2 linked regions of the Homo sapiens genome follow. Each later gene encodes a partner of the first gene's protein in a complex. Each region holds a gene or a part of one and is shown on either strand. Other genes may lie near its edges. A codon is read from its position in the direction of its gene.

Region 1 (8,902 bases):
TCTTGCAGCAAGAATGGCTTCAAGCCTGGAATGCAATTGTAGATTTGAGCATCCAGGTCACCATATATTGCCTTTTCCACTTCAACCAGGGGCTACCTAAGGCAAATAACTCATTCTAATTTCCAATGGAAATAATCTTTGTAGTTTAGTCCTTTTTCCAATAGTATTCATTTGGTTTCACTATGCTTTTTTGGCTAATGACAAAGGTTTTGAAAACAAGTTTGGATACAGAGAAAGGGGATTTTTAGTAACATGTAATCTTTAAAATGCATCATATTTTTAAAAAGTAAAATTAAAGAAATAAGAGTCTTAAGAAAAGTATGCAAAATATTAGGATTAATCAAAATAAAGGGGTTAGAGGAGAGAAAAAATGAACACGGTAAAATGAAAAAGCCCTGCAGCAATTCCAGGCAGTAAAAGGGAAATTATTGTAGTTCTCTTTCTCTGTTGGTATGTTCTTAATTGAAAAAAAATATTTCTCATGGGAGAGTAACACAGAAAGGAAAGAGGAAAACAGCTGGCTGTTGGCCATGATTTACCATTCACCGCAAAATGAGACTGTTTCTGCTTCTCAAAGTCCACTGTTTTTCCCAAGCAGACATGGACCATACTGACACAAAGCCAATTAAGATGAGACTTAAAAAATAAGAAAGAGGTCTAGATGTGTAACTCAGAAGACAGGGCAAGGACATAGAATCAATTCTGTTCTAAAGTATTATTAAAACAAAAACTTTGTATAACCAAACTAGCTCCCACATCCTAGCAACAGCTCGCTTTCTTCAAACAAAACAAAATATAGCAAAATCTAATTATAAAAACCCCTTGTCTTTGTGATGGTGGGTTTTAACTGGTAATTAATCCCAATTTGTACAACTGATGTGGACGAGCTTTCCTTTTACAAACCAAGAATTTTATAATAGTATCATCTATCTCAATCACTGTTTAATAAAGACAGTCCTCCTTAATTCTTTTTACATGAAATGTTAATGTGGAACAATGATGCTTTTCATCTGTCTGGAAGAAATTCCTCATGAAATCAACAATGTAAAAGTTTTAGAAGGAAAAAATGTCATACATCTTAAAACAGAAGTCATATTAGTTGTATTTAAATGGTTGTATCTTTGTTCCAACTTTTAATCTTCCTTTTCTCAAGGTACATTCAAACTATAAATTTTCTTGAATAACTGAGTCAAAAAGAAAGGAGACTTGAAAACTAGGTACCAAAATAGGGTGAGGACTCTGCTGGTAAATCAGATAGTCTTGTAATATTTCCTTCTTTGGACGTGTTAGAAAACAATTGCTAAAAGGAACATAAATTTCTTTTTGAGAGTATGGCTAAGATTGTGAAATACATTCCTGAGATTTCCAAATTTTGTACTGGGAAACTTTTTGTTAGACTATCAAGCCTATTAAGGGACTCACAAATTGGAGTCATACGGGACATCTCTGCGGTTTTTTAATAGCTTCCAATTTACCAGTTGAGGATTCTAAGAATCATCAGTGAAGACAACGTAGTGAAACAGGGATTTGTTATATCATGGGATTCTCTCTAAAACCTTTAATTTATGGAATTCTTTCTGGGGTGGTAGAGGCGGAGAAGAGGAGGATTAGAGAAAGTTAAGATTCTTGGTTGAAAATATAACTTTTAAAAGTAAAGTGGGGGATAAACGAGGAAAATTACACCATATGTCAAGGGCATTATTTATCATAATCCACATTTTCAAACTCTAAGGAAATTGTTTATAAACAACGTCTGGATTTTTCCTTTGCAAGCATATACAATTTTTAAGTTTGAACTTCTTCCCTCAGAATTACTCCTTGTCTCAAAAAGTTTCAAAAATGTCTTTGATTTTTCTCCCCCTATTAAACAGACTTTATTTTTAAAGCATTTTTTAGCTTCACAGCAAAATTGAGCAGAAAATTCGAAGTTCCCATGTACCTCCCCCATGCCTTCCTGTCTCCAGCAGCCTCCCGGACTACCAACAACCCGTATCAGTGCAGTACATTTGTTACAAGTGATGAAACACATTGACACATCATTATCCCCAACATACATAGTTTACATTAGGGTTTACTCTTGGTGTTCTACATTCTATGGATTTTGATTAATGTATAATTACATGTATCAGCCATTTTATAGTATCATACAGAATAGTGTCATTACCCTAAAAATCCTGTGCTTCACCTGTTCATCCTCGGCAGCCCAAAATATGTTTACTTTTGCAAAGTTGTCTTCAAATAAATACTTAAAAGCAAGGACAAGACCCCCCAAGTTTTAGACAAGTACTAAATTAAGTAGCTCTTACCTACTTGAAAACTAAATGAGAGTAGTATTCATCAACAGAAAGCTAAGCGGGCAAAATGCTTTCCCCGCTTTTCCCCCATGACAAGCAAGATTAACCAAAAATATTACAGTTATTTAAAAGAAAAAAAGAAAGAAACCAAATGGGAAGAGAATAGAATGCAATCACGCTACCATTAACAATTTATGTTTTTCTGTTCTTGGATACCTTTTTGAGTGCCTGAGAATTTTAGTCGCAAGGAATGAAAAAAACTGTTTTCTCATTTCGAGTTTTTATTGGTCAATAGCTTCCTAACCGAAAACTCTGCAGTCCTAACACAATATTTTGTATCCATTTTCAAAAATCCAGTTCTGGGCATAAAATAGAATTAATGCTCAAGTCAAAAACTTTGTGTTTAGAAGATAAAATATTAGGAACCATGAGTATGAGAAAAACAAAAACTGTTTTCTGTATTTTTCCCTTCCTCTCTCTGCAAAACTTCTCTATTTGATAAGGGACAGCTAGCTTAAATTTACCACAAAGTAAAACATGAGCAAATCCCCTGGAACGAGGAGAACTTTCGCACAGGGCAATTCACTCGAATGTGACATCAGCATTCCTTCTGAGTCATAGTCTGGTCCCCACCCTTTTCTCCCAGGCGACACCAGGCTCCGCATAACCCGGGAGTGGCTCAGGTAGGGCCGTCGGTTCCAGTGCCTGCGAGGCAGCAGCCAAGCTGAAAATGTCTCCCTGCGCTGAGACGCTGGTGACAACCGCCCTTTGGGACTACCTGCCAAACAAGGAGAATGCGCTCTTTGACAGATAATTCCCTAAGAGGGAGGCACTGCCTCGGTCGGTAGACAAGTAATGAATGACCGAAAAAAAAATCACATTAGAAGTTATCACCAGCACGGGTGCGAAGGCAGTGCATTAAATCAACACTCATTTTAGAGCGCCCCAGACAGCCCAGCCGGAAGGGAGGAGATCAGAGCTGTCAAAGCACAGCAGAGCCCCAAACCACAAAGGCTTAATGAAATTCAACTTCCTGAGCCAGGAAGTGTCACGGTCTCGCCCGCACTCGCCCTAAGCTCGTCCTTTCCTTTTGAGGAGGCACAGGCAGAGCTGAAACATCTTAAGTAAAGTTTCCAACACCTACAACCACTGGGATTCCGTGAGACTGGAGAGAAGAGTCCCGCGCCCGCCCTCGCTCGCGCTTCCAATTCTGTCGCTCCCGAGTGTGGGGAGCTGGCGGGGCCGCCGAGCACCTCCTCTACCCAGGGGGCCAGGTCCCTGGGCCCGGGGCACCGCAGACCCAGAGCCGGGCTCACACCGGGGGGCCCGCGAGCCCCACCCACCTCGGCACCTCCGGCCGCCGCGCGCCGCGCGACCCGCGCAGGTGAAGCAGCCGCCGCCCGCCACGAGCGCCCCCCTACCTTCTTCACTTTGTTTTCCAGGTCCATGTTAACGCGTCCTATGGGTCCCCTCCTCCTCCTATCCGGGATCCCACGGCCGGGTTCAGCTGGCCTCCGGCTCCGCTGCGAACACGGGAAACCTGCGGAACTCCCGCGGCGCCGCTCAACAGCCACTCGCCCGGCGCCGTCGAACTTCCGCCGCCCAGTCCGCCGCAGCGGGCCTGCGGCCCGGACCCGGGAACAAAGGGGGCCGGGCAGCCAATGGCAGCCGGGCAGCTCCGGGCCGCCGCCAATCACCGAGCGCCGCACGCACCTTCGCGGCCCGAGCGCGGCGCTGGCAAGGTGAGAGGCGGGGCGGCGTCCGAGGCGGCGCCCTGCTGGGCAAGCTCAGTGACCCTGACCTGGTCTCCGAAGGGATTCTCTGGGCGTCCACGGGCCGGCTTCTAAAGAGCTGGGATCCCCAGCCTCCCTCTAGCTGAAGATGGAGAAGAACTTTTTCCATTTGGCAATTTGTACCTGTGTTTGCCCAGGACTTTTTATTTGGGTCAAGGGGAATAGTTATCCCAATACTAACTTCTCAGTTTATTTTCAGGGTAAAGAGAGAAAAAAAAGAGAGAGAGAGAGATTGTAGGGATCGTTAGGGATTCCTGTGATGGACCTTGGGCACTAAATTCAATATTGCGTTGTGGAGATGCCCTTTCCTCAATTGCTTTTTTCCACAATCCCAAATACTGTCAAGAAACCGTATCTTACATCCCTAAAGTCAGCGAAGATTCTTAGATTGTTTTCTGAGCATTGGGTTGTTCAAAAGTAAAGATGATGTGAATCACTTCAGAAACAGGTTGTGTCATTCCTTTGGAAGCAGAGGGTTGCCCTTTGTCTCTGTGTGAGATGGTGCTAGGCCTATCGCGTGCTCAGGCTTTGATGAAGCAGAGTCATCACATTGGTGCACCAAAGCTGAATTCATTTCATGCCCTAATTCAGGAGCAATTGCATCTAATACCATCAGATTGGTCGGTCTGGAAGGGAGCCTAACGATTACTTAGTCTAGCTTCCTCACTTTGCAGGGAACTGAGGACTCCAGAGGTGCAGGGACCTGCCTAATGTCTTAGCCTGTTGGGGACAGAGGCATTGCTCATGAATCTAAACAACTTCTCAAAGATGTTTGGGGCTGGAAGCACAGCATGTTGACTAAGGAAAAAGAGCAGTCAATTTTCTTCAATTTGTGGTTATGGCAAAAAATAACATTGCCCAGACAGCAGGTGACCTAATTTGGCACCTACTTTTAAAAATAACAAAACAATATAAAACAAACAAACAAAAATTCCCTAATAATGCAGATATTCAGGTCCAGATGTATGTCTGCCTTGCCTCGAGAAATTTGGTAGCTAAAAATATCCAAAATTCATTTTAGCCAATACTTGCAACTCTGCTTACTTGATTATTTGTTAACACAGAGCATTGATTTATAATGTGCATGTTTCCTTTATCCTATTAAGAATTAAAACTGAAATTACCAAAATGAGTTATGCATTTTTCTTTTCAGCTGATGTAAAACTTTTCTGTGTCATTTTCCCAAACCACCTTGAAAGGTGTGGGCCCCTGCAAAGTCTGCCCGTTGTAAGTGTATAGGATCATGAGGTCTAGCTATGACAAGGCAATTTTGTTTCTTTCAGAGAGCTTAACAGATGGAAAATGTCCAGTAAAGCAATTTAAATAAGGCATCAAACAAATGTTGTAACATAAATTTTGGACCCTTATTTGATGAGGTTGCAGAGATGACACTAAGAAAACCATCTGGAAACTTTTTTTTTTTAACTGTCAACTTCTGCCTTTCTCCCATTCTTCCTTCCCAACCCTCTCAGCATTACATTGTGTGTGTGTATCATTGGCAAGGATGGAAATAGAAATTCAGTGAGTTTTATCTGGAATTATCACTGTGCCAATTATATAAAAATAATTATAGATTATGTATAAATTATAAAAATAAAATTGAGGTAGATAAGTGTTAAGAGAGTTAAATTGTAAGTTTTTGTTCAGTTATTCAGGTGTTAAGCTACAGTTATTAAGGAGGTAGAACTGGCATGGTTTGATGAGTACATGTAGTTGATGACAGTGGAATGAATAGAAGATGGCACACATTTCTATCTTGATCACCTCTATGGATAGCTCAGAAAGAGAGAAAATATAGGATGATGGTCAGGGTTTTGTTCAGTTGTGCATTCTTTGGGGCTGGTGGTGGACATAAAGGATACAACTTTTAATATATTGAGTTTGAGACTGAGACATTGAAATGAGTATCCAAATATACATCTTGAATGCTGATTTAGGAGTTCACATCCTACATAAATAAATAATTAAAGGCCAAGAAGTGAGATGAGCCTCGGAGACAGTAAAATAAAAGAGAAGAATATCAAAGACACCAAGTGAGCAAGGCTGAGCAAGAGAAACACATAAAAGAGATAAGGGCTAGATTAAGGGTAAGAAAAAAATTAGGAGTCAAATCCCTAAAAGCAAGAAAGGAAATTGAAGAAGAAATTAGTTAACAATGTCAAATTGTAGAAAAGGGTCAAATGCCCTTCGGATTTAACAAAAAGGAGATCATTGGTGACTTTGGAAAGTGCATTTTTGGTGCAGTTGTGGGGAAAGATATTACTTTATAATTTTATCTCCCTTTGTTTCTACCAGAGTGCTTTAGTCAATGTTGGACTTGACTTTTCCACAAAACTTATGGACACATCAGCCAAATAAATGCCCAACTCTGCTGTTTCAATCAAGTAGAGAGGAAATCAATATACTATACTGGATAATACTAAGGAATGGTCTTAAGATCTTTATCTTTAGAGAAGTAAATGAAAATACTAGATTTTACACATGTGTGCAGGCACACACAGAGAGAGAGAGACAGACAGAGACAGAGACAGAGGAGAGAGAGAGAGAGAGACTGAAGTTCTCTGTATAGGCCAAACAAAATATTTATTCAGGTTAAATTCAGTTTCTATGCTATCAAATTACAATATCCGATGAGGGAAATGTGTTAAACTTTTATGTACCCTTCATCACTGGAGAGATGTAAAAATACATAAGACATTCCCTTTGTTCTTAAGCAGTTTACAGATTAGTATGGGAGTAGCAGGTGTGTAAGAGTAATGAAATGTTACAGGTAGAGGGAAGCACACGTGAGAGTCAGGGAGAAGGTGGTATTGGGATTTGTAAAATCTTTAGAAAAGAGTAACCTTGGCTTAGTCTTGGAAGATGAATAAGTGTCTTAGTTAAAACTCTTGATTGCAAGTTATATTAGGCCGTTCTTGCACTACTATAAAGAAATACCTGAGACTGGGTAATTTATAAAGAAAAGAGGTTTAATTAGCTCACAGTTCTACAGGCTGTACAGGAAGCATACCTTCTGCATTGGCTTCTGGGGAGGCCTCAGGAAGCTTACAATCATGGCAGAAGGCAAAGTGGGAGAAAGCACTTCACATGGTAAAAGCAGGAGCAAGAGAGACAGAATGTGTTGGTGGGGGAGGATGAGGTGTGCCACACAATTTTAAATGACCAGCTCCCCTGTGAACTCAGAGAGAATGCTCATTTATTGCCAAAGGGATGGCCCAAGCCACTCATGATCCAAACACCTCCCATTGGGCCCTACCTCCAGCATTACGGATTACAATTCAACATGAGATTTGGGTGGGGACAAATATACAAACCATATCACAAGTAATAGTAACCCTCGAGCTAGTTTACTTTTAAAAAGATGGCATTTTATTTTAAGGATACAGAGGCTTGTTGCAAAACTCAAGGGCCAGATGCATCTGCGACTAGACCAGGCACTTGCCAACATCTGGAACAAGGAATCTACTCCTTCACTGGGGTTATGTGGTCTCTCATCTTGCTGCTTGGCCTCCATCAGCTTTAGTTCTTTCTCTTTGAAGACTCTGTTTTCCTGCACACATGGGCAACCAATAAAGGCAGTCTCAGCTCGTTAATTGACATCACCCTAGTTCAAGCAAAATACCCAGTTTGGGATTTCAACCCCTCTAACAAAAAGACTTTAAATAGCCCAGCTTGGATAAGCTTAAACTTCTGATTCAATTAGCTGAAGCTGGTGCCAGTTGAGAGACACAAAGGACAACACATAGACTAAAGCCCAAACTTATAGGTAGGACAAATCTCACAGAGAGGGAGTAATAAGAGTTTTCCAAATGCCTCCAAAGATATCTATCTCTGTTTCAGATGTTACAAGGAAATTAGCAAAGGAAGAGGCTTAGTAAGTACAAGCAGAAGATTTTTCTTTCTGTCGATATTGGAGAACTTTTTCCCTTGACTTTTATTATAGGTTTGGGAGTACATCTGCAGGTTTGTTACATGATTAAATTGCATGTTGCTGGGGTTTGGTTTACAAATGATTTCATCAGCCAGGTAGTGAGCATAGTACACAACTGGTACCTTTTTGAACCTCACCCTCCTCCCACCCTCTACCCTCAAGTAGGTACCATTGTCTATTGTTCCCCTCTGTGTGTTCTGGTGTACTCAATGTTTCTGAACATTTCAAAAACTATTTAAATTACAGAAACCCCACTTGGGCAAAAAGTTGTAGATGTTTATTTTATTGCTAGGAATGGGGGTAGATAATGAATAGGACAAGTCTAAAGAATGGAAGATTAATCAGGAGATTCTAGCTATAGCCCACAAGAAATATGATGAGGGCCAAAGTAAAGCAGTAGCAATGACTGTGGAGAGTTAGAAGGATTTATCAATGATATTAAACAGGTAGAAAATATTGGACTTGACTGATTCTTGAAAAGAGAGAGGATAAGGAATCCATTAGGATTCTATTTTCTATCTCTTAGGAATCTATTTTGGGTGACCAGTTTGGTGGATATAACACACACCTTAAGGCAGGAAACAAAAGTGGAGAAGAAAATTTGATTGAGAAAGATAATGGGTTTTGTTTTGTGTGTATTGATTTGGCAAGGCCAATAGGATATGAGTCTGGTGGACAAAAGAAACATCAGGGCTGAAGATACAGATGATGCTACATACACAAGTACACATACATAAACATATATACATATACACACATAAATACACATACGGAGTAAACACTACATATGCCAGGGAAAATAATTATTGAAAACTTTTCTATACTAGATGAGGTAAACATTTCAAGATGAAAATGATACACCTGTCTCATCAATTATTAATGTG
Region 2 (7,929 bases), on another chromosome or scaffold:
TTAAGAGGAGGGGAAGACATCCCAGGCAGAGAGCACAGCTTGAGCAAAGGCTCAAATGGAGGCACGGTGAAGAACTTCCCACAGTCAAAGTGTTTGGAAAAACAGATGAAGCTAGAGAAGTCACAGAGCCAAATAGAAAGGGCATCAAATGGCAGGAGTAGGTTTAGACTAAACTGAGGAGAGCCAGGGAAGCTATGAAGACTTTAAGCAGGGGAATGATCAGATTTGCCCTCTAGAAAAATGTTAGAAAGGGCCGGGCGTGGTGGCTCATGCCTGTAATCCCACCAGCACTTTGGGAGGCTGAGGCAGGTGGATCATGAGGTCAGGAGTTCAAGACCAGCCTGGCCAAGATGGTGAAACCCCATCTCTACTAAAAATACAAAAATTAGCTGGGCATGGTGGCGGGTGCCTGTAATCCCAGCTACTTGGGGGGCTGAGGCAGAGAATTGCTTCAACCTGGGAGGCAAAGGTTGCAGTGAGCTGAGATCGCACCACTGCACTCCAGCCTGGGAGACAGAGTGAGACTCCATCTCAAAAAAAAAGAAAAGAAAAATAAAAATGTTAGAAAGATCTGCATTGGGCTGTAATGTAGAGAATGGATGGGAGGGGCAAGACTAGAAACTGAGACCCGAAACGAGGCCATTGGAGAACTTCTGATAAGACTTGAAGGTGGCCTGACCTAGGGCTGTGAGAGTGTGGAAACAAGGAAGAGCCTAGTTCTAGAGAAACTTAGAAAGTAGAATAGAATCCAATCTGTTTTTTCCCCAACCATCCCTCACTTTAATCCAAGCTCTTACTCTGACATTTCAGGGCTTCCCTCATGGGCTCCTGTGATGTGGGATGTGAGGCAGAGGGAAGGATGAATCGCTTACTTGTACCCGGGCAAAGAAAGATGGCCTGTCATCCAGAAAGGACAAATTCACGAGAGTGCCAGAGGGACCTGCAACTTAAGCTGCCCCCTCCCACTCCAAAAATCAAAAAGGCAGTTTAGGGCTTTGGTGGTGAAGAGTCAACAGAAAAAGGGGAAGAGCGGCAACTGGGCCTGAGGAAGTTTTCTGGGAGAATTAAGATGAGCAGAGGTGCCTGAGGAATTGATTAGGCAACATGCATGGGGGAAAAAGAGTTAAGAAATACTGCCATGGAGCATGTAAGAATGCTAATGAGGAATGTGTGGGGATTTTTGTTTGCCAAATTTTTGTTTGTTTGTTTGTTTCTGAGACAGAGTTTCGCTCTTTCGCCCAGTCTGGAGTGCAGTGGCGCGATCTCAGCTCACTGCAACCTCCGCCTTCCAGTTTCAAGCGATTCTCCTGCCTCAGCCTCCCCAGTAGCTGGGATTACAGGCACCTGCTACCACGCCTGGCTAATTTTTGTATTTTTGGTAGAGACGGGGTTTCACCATGTTGGCCAGGCTGACATTGAACTCCTGATCTCGTGATCCGCCCGCCTTGGCCTCCCAAAGTGCTGGGATTACAGGTGTGAGCCACCATGCCCAGCCCGCTGAATTGTTTCTTGGAACATGGCAGCATTCAACTATATTATTTGGGTAACAACTTTCTAAGGGTTATAATTATGAACATCATGACCCAGAAATGCCCTGTGGTGGGATCATGAAATCACAGAAGCTGAGGATTGGACCCTTCAGTTCCTTCTAGAACATTCCATCCAGTAGTCTGACATGGACAGCTCACCCTATTTTGGCCAGCCATGAGTGATAAACGTTTCGTCACACTGGATTGGCATGTGTACCTCTCTGAAGCCATTAAATGGTCTTGGGTCTACTCTTGAAGTTCTACGGGGCAAGCAAATTCTTCCACGACAACTCTTAGGCTATTTAAAGGCAGTATTCATGGACTGCCAGAGCCTACTTTTTATCCATTCCTTACAGAAAGGCAGTACAGAGCAGATGGAAGACTGAGGAACTGGATTCCGAAGACCTGGGTTCAAACATAGACTTATTATTTATAATCTGTATGACTTTGGGTAAACTACTTGAAATGTTGTTTGAATGTGATTACCATTTTGCTATGTCCCCTCGTCAACTTGACCCCTACCCACAGCCTCCAGGTCTCTGCCTTGAGCTGCTAAGTGGATGATGGTGACACACACACATACACACACACACACACACACACACACACACACTCACATTTGGGGTCTGCTGACTTAGAGATGCCCAAAGGTCACTAGGCTGTGGGACACTGGGCTGGAGCACATGGAAAGGGAAGCATCCGGATCCACATTTGCATGCTCAGTAGCACATCTGCCCCTGAAGACAGCTCCTCTCCCTTCCACCTCGGGGAAATGGACACAGTCTTGGGACCTGGGTGTCCACACTGGGATCTGAGCTGTGAGAAAGCAGCTCAAAGTGCCTGTTTGGCAAGGATCTTCTTTGTTGGGAGCTCCTGACTCAGGGGTTCTCCAGCATATTCAAGAGTTGGAAAGGCTGTGGTGGGCTCCAGTAATTTTTAAGAAAAACTCCAGGTGATTCATGAGAAGAAATGCCATGCTGGATTTTCTTTTTTTCCCTCCCATTGCTGCTAAAATTCCAGAGGCCTGGCTCACCTCTCCTCCAAAGGTCAAGGGTGGGCAGTGTCCCAAAACTGAAGCCAGGAGCCAGGATGCACCTCAGGCAGAAGTGTGTTCTTTAATCTCACCTTTCCATGTTCTCTCCCTCCACTATAGAAGAGGATCCCAGGGTTGCATTTGAAAAGGGGTCATCCCATGGTTTTTTTGGTCTTGAGCCAGAGGGCTAAAAGTAGGTGTGATCCCATTAGAAAATGTGGCCCAATATATTTTGAGCACTATAGGGTGCCTCTCCCAAGAGGGACCTCACTAGGGACCCCAGAGGGCCCACACAGACCTTAGCTGGTGACAATTATGGGGGGTGTGTGTGCTAGGCAGTGGAGGTTTGGGGCACGGTGTCCACAGTCTCTGCATTCTTCCATCATTACCACTAACCGTGTGATGACCCATAGAGGGAGAGAAGAGGCACAGAGGGTAACAGGAAGCTTAGGGGAAACAGGGTTTTTATTAGGAGCACCCAACATGTGAAACTCAGTGGTGAAGTAAAAGGAGGGCAAGTGTTTCATTGGCTTTTGCTCAGAGAATGTGAGGGGAATCCCTATGCTCAAGGACCTTACAGACTAGATAGAGTGACTGCCTTACACTAAAGCATCACCTCTTCCACACACAAATGCAGAAAGTGTGATGACAGATGACAGATGGGCAAGCCTGGGCAGCCCACGAAGAGCAAATGAGTCAGAGCATGTCAGGCTTGGAGTGTATTAGCAAAGAGGGAGGCACTGAACAGGTGAAAGGGTCCTCCAAAGGTGTCCACATCTTAATCCCTGGGACCTGTGACTATATTAACTTTCATGCCAAAAGGGATTCTGTGGATGTGATTAAATGAAGGAATCTGAGATGGGGAGAGTATCCTGTATGGCCTGGGTGGGGCCAATGTAATCACAAGGGTCCTTATATGGGGGATACAGGAGGGTCAAGGGCAGAGAAGCAGATGTGACAATGACAGCTCTAGTCTGAGAGTCTTCCAAGATGGAGGAAGGGACTATGAGCCAAGGAACACAGGTGGCCTCTAGGAGCTGGAGGCAAGAGGAAGTATTGTCTCCTACACCTCCAGAAGGAATACAGCCCTGAAAGAACCTTAATTGTAGCCCACTAAGAAGAATTACGAACTTCTGACCTCCAAAATAGTAAGATAATAACTGTGAATTGCTTTAAGCCACTAAATCCATGGTAATTTGTTACAGCAGAAACAGGAAGCTAATACAGGCTCTTCTAGGAGTCCAGGTTAGTGAAAAGGCACCAAGCAGCTATAGATTTCGCAACATTCAAGTAGGGTTTGGGAAGAAAAAAATGGAGGGTTTTAAATTACATATGCCTTTGGTTACCATATACAGCACTTTTGAAATAAAGTCAAACAATCTGAGTTGCCCACGCAAATCCCTGAACGGCAGAGGCAATTAAACTGTTTTTCAGGCAGCCAGGCATCAAAAGTACTTTCCTATTTTTCCTTTAAAATTCCATGCTATTATCTCACCCACTAACCAATGAAGCAAGAAACTGAGATTTTGTCCTTGGGATGACACCTTGCTGCCCCCATCAGATAGTCACCACAAACCTCATGAGACTGGACTTGGTCCTTTTCTTCTCTCATACCCAACAAGGAACTGAGAGCAACTCCCGTAGCCTCTCTAAAGGAGAAAGCCCATTATTGTGGTGACTGCCTCTTTTATGAAGGGCTGGGATCAGGTTCAGGGTGTGGCATAACATAAGGTTGGATTCTGCCCTGAGTGTGGCAGGCATCCACACCAATGTGTCCAGCTTCAGAAATGGCATGCAAGATGGTGGCCAAACAGCCTAAGAGTTGCACGCTAGGTCCCATCAAGCTGTGTCCCAGCACATCCTGGGGAGGAAGCCACAGTCAGGAGAGCTTGGCTACTCCTGGTTGGATATCCTTGGGTGAGCTATGCACCTAAAAGCCTCAGTGTTGTCAGTGGGATTTTGTAGAGTCTAATTTCACTGTCTAGCCAATGACCCTGATGAAGGCACAGTAAGTGTACACATGTATATCCAAAAATAATTCCCCTTAAGGTTGTTCTAAGGGTCACCCTTAGTGCCCTTAGTCACCATAGCAGCAAAGGATTCCCACTAACATCTAAATCAGATGGTGTCAGTGCTCTGTGCCAAATCCTCTAGTGCTTTCTGACCTTACCCACGATCCTTGCATTGGCCTATGAGGCCTACCATGAGCTGCTTGCCTTCCCCCACCCCATCTCATCTACTTTTCCTTACTCCTTCTATGCCAGCCACACTTTTCTTCCTGCTCCTCCTTTAACTCGAGAGGTCGGCAAACTTTTTAAGGGTCAGTCAGTATTTACTTTCTTTCAGCTTTTTGGGCAATGCAGTCTTCAATGCTGTGACTCAGCTCTACTGTTGTACTGCAATGGCAGTCACGGACAATACGTACATGAATGAGCACGGCTGTATTCCTATCCAACAAGCCGGGGACCGGATTGGACTGCAGCCTGCTGACCCCTGATCTAACTCTTCAGTCACACATCTGCCTCCAGTCCTCTGCACCTGCTGCTCCCCTGACATACACATGGCTCTCTCCCTCACCTCCTGCAGGTCTTCATTCAAATGTCACCCTCTCAGGAAGCCCTGCCCAGGCCACACTAGCACTGCCACCCTGCTTTTGCTCTTAACGCTCATTTTGGTTATTGTCTGTCACCCCCACCCGCCACCGACTAGAATAAGGGATTTTGTCTGTTTTTTTCACCAGCGAATTCCCAGCTGCCTTGTATATAGCAGACATTCAAGAAATATTAATTAATTGAATAAATCAGTCTTGTTACGAAATTTAGGAAAAGGGGAGCCATTTCAAAAACAATATCCCAAATGTACCCTAACACAGGATAAGGGTTTGCAATATCTAGAAAGCCCAGGTCACCAGATTACATCATAATTAGTGATGTCACTGTTGGGAAAATTCTCAGGGTATCCTCTGATGTAGGCCTTTCAGGCCTTGAATCCAGTGGGATTGAGAACTTTCTAAGAGTGGTGCGGCTCTTGACAACATGTGGGCTCCACCAGCAGCAATCATGGGGGATGGGCCCACCAAGAAGGTGGGCAACCAGGCCCCCCTGCAGACACAGGCCCTCCAGACTGCCTCTTTAAGGGATGGCCCGGCGAAGCGGGCCGTGTGGGTCCGCCATACGAGTTCAGAGCCACAAGAACCTACTGAATCAAAGGCAGCCAAGGAGAGGCCCAAGCAGGAGGTGACCAAAGCAGTGGTCGTGGACCTGGGCACTGGCTACTGTAAATGTGGCTTTGCCGGCCTGCCAAGACCCACCCACAAGATCTCAACAACGGTGGGCAAGCCCTACATGGAGACCGCCAAGACTGGGGATAATCGCAAGGAGACATTCGTGGGGCAGGAACTCAACAACACAAACGTTCATCTCAAGCTGGTTAACCCTCTGCGACATGGCATCATCGTGGACTGGGATACAGTGCAGGATATCTGGGAATATCTCTTCCGACAAGAGATGAAGATCGCCCCGGAGGAGCATGCGGTCTTGGTTTCAGACCCGCCACTGAGCCCACACACCAACAGAGAGAAATATGCTGAAATGCTGTTTGAAGCCTTCAACACCCCTGCAATGCACATCGCCTACCAGTCGCGCCTGTCCATGTACTCCTATGGAAGGACCTCCGGCCTGGTGGTGGAGGTGGGCCATGGCGTGTCCTACGTGGTCCCCATCTACGAGGGTTATCCTTTGCCCAGCATCACCGGAAGGCTGGACTACGCGGGCTCTGACCTGACAGCCTACCTGCTGGGCCTGCTGAACAGTGCGGGGAACGAATTCACCCAGGACCAGATGGGCATCGTGGAGGACATCAAGAAGAAATGCTGCTTTGTGGCCCTGGATCCCATTGAGGAGAAGAAAGTCCCTCTCAGTGAGCATACGATCCGCTACGTGCTGCCGGATGGGAAGGAGATTCAGCTGTGCCAGGAACGGTTCCTCTGCTCGGAGATGTTCTTCAAGCCATCTCTCATCAAGTCCATGCAGCTGGGCCTCCACACCCAAACCGTGTCCTGCCTTAACAAGTGTGACATCGCCCTCAAACGGGACCTCATGGGGAACATCCTGCTCTGCGGGGGCAGCACGATGCTCAGTGGCTTCCCTAACCGTCTGCAGAAGGAGCTAAGCAGCATGTGTCCCAATGACACCCCGCAGGTAAACGTGCTGCCTGAAAGAGACAGTGCCGTGTGGACCGGTGGCTCCATCCTGGCCTCACTTCAGGGTTTCCAACCATTGTGGGTCCACCGCTTTGAGTACGAGGAACACGGGCCTTTCTTCCTCTACAGAAGGTGCTTCTGAACAGCGACGAGGATGGACACTGCACTGGCAGTGCCTACCCTCGACAGGGTGAGCGCACTCCTACACACAGGGGGTGGAGCCGGCGCTTATTCCTGTAGCATTAAACACCCCTCATATGCCCCTCCACAGTGTGTTTCTCTACTTCCTGACTTCATAAGAAACAACTTCACACGTGCAGCGTCTGCCTTAAAATATACATTTCCCAAAACAAAAGCAGGAGTAGGGGGAGGATGAACAAAAAAGGGCATGCATTGTATGTGGATTGCTTAAACATTCACTTGTTCTAAAATTATGCTGCCCCTTATTTTGTGCATTCCCCGCTTTAGGAACTACTTTACGGTTAAACTCTGCTTGGAAGGGGGAGTGCAATGAAGATTAGAGGGTAAATGCTGTTGGGGCATATAAGCAGTTCCCTTTCCATAAATGCCAATAGGAAGTATGCTGTAACAGTGCAAACTCCCACAAAGCATCAGTGTCCATTTCATACTTCATCAACAACCCTGAGGGACTGGAAAGAGCTGGCAAAGCTGTCTGAGCCCTGCTTTAACAGGAGTTTCTTTTAGTTCCAACAGTCATTTATGTCTCAGTACCAGTTCTTACTAAGCCATCACAGCGACTGGCTGCTGAAGCCTAGCATATTACAAGCAAGGCATTTGTATGTGCCTTAAAGGGCAACTCTTCAGAGAACAAGTGCTATACAGATTTCCCATTTTAAAAACTGAAGTAAGACTGATCTTGGGTTATCAGCAGAGAGGTTAGGGATTGAGGCCACAGTCATTCTCTAGACACTTCAAGTAGTAGCTGACCATCTCCCAGCAGACTGGATTCTCCATCAGCCTAGAACACACACGGTTGGAGTCTGGGGTGTGCTGAGGATAGAGGCTGCTGGTTCTGGGGCTGATGATATGGGTCTGTGGGAGGCTGCCCTATGTGGGTCATTCTAACCCCACTGGGGAGCCCAAAGATACACAGAGACCCTCAGTAGCCAGGGAAGCCCTTCCAGGGCCCAGCGAGCTCTCTGGTG

The links.
Region 2: the proteins of TES (region 1) and ACTL7A are in contact, whole or in part, in a crystal structure (PDB 2XQN), measured with the Homo sapiens proteins. Residues at the interface, in NP_056456.1 of Homo sapiens: Asn311, Glu312, Tyr313, Thr314, Gln315, Ala316, Glu317, Leu323, Phe326, Leu335, Ala336, Gly337, Glu338, Ile339, Tyr340, Val341, Tyr353, Pro370, Glu371, Val372, Gln373, Arg374, Val375, Thr376, Tyr377, Ala384, Phe389, Leu398, Ile399, Gly400; in NP_006678.1 of Homo sapiens: Leu28 (codon at 5,679), Gln29 (codon at 5,682), Thr30 (codon at 5,685), Ala31 (codon at 5,688), Ser32 (codon at 5,691), Leu33 (codon at 5,694), Arg34 (codon at 5,697), Asp35 (codon at 5,700), Gly36 (codon at 5,703), Pro37 (codon at 5,706), Ala38 (codon at 5,709), Lys39 (codon at 5,712), Arg40 (codon at 5,715), Ala41 (codon at 5,718), Val42 (codon at 5,721), Trp43 (codon at 5,724), Val44 (codon at 5,727), Arg45 (codon at 5,730), His46 (codon at 5,733).

Annotation. Positions count from the first base shown.
Region 1 is NC_000007.14:116,205,548-116,214,449, reverse strand, and holds the start of TES (testin), read right to left. Parts: upstream 3,912-8,902; 5' UTR 3,743-3,911; coding exon 3,716-3,742; intron 1-3,715. UniProt on the Homo sapiens protein: Scaffold protein that may play a role in cell adhesion, cell spreading and in the reorganization of the actin cytoskeleton. Plays a role in the regulation of cell proliferation. May act as a tumor suppressor. Inhibits tumor cell growth.
Region 2 is NC_000009.12:108,856,726-108,864,654, forward strand, and holds ACTL7A (actin-like protein 7A), read left to right. Parts: upstream 1-5,540; 5' UTR 5,541-5,597; coding exon 5,598-6,905; 3' UTR 6,906-7,031; downstream 7,032-7,929. UniProt on the Homo sapiens protein: Essential for normal spermatogenesis and male fertility. Required for normal sperm head morphology, acroplaxome formation, acrosome attachment, and acrosome granule stability.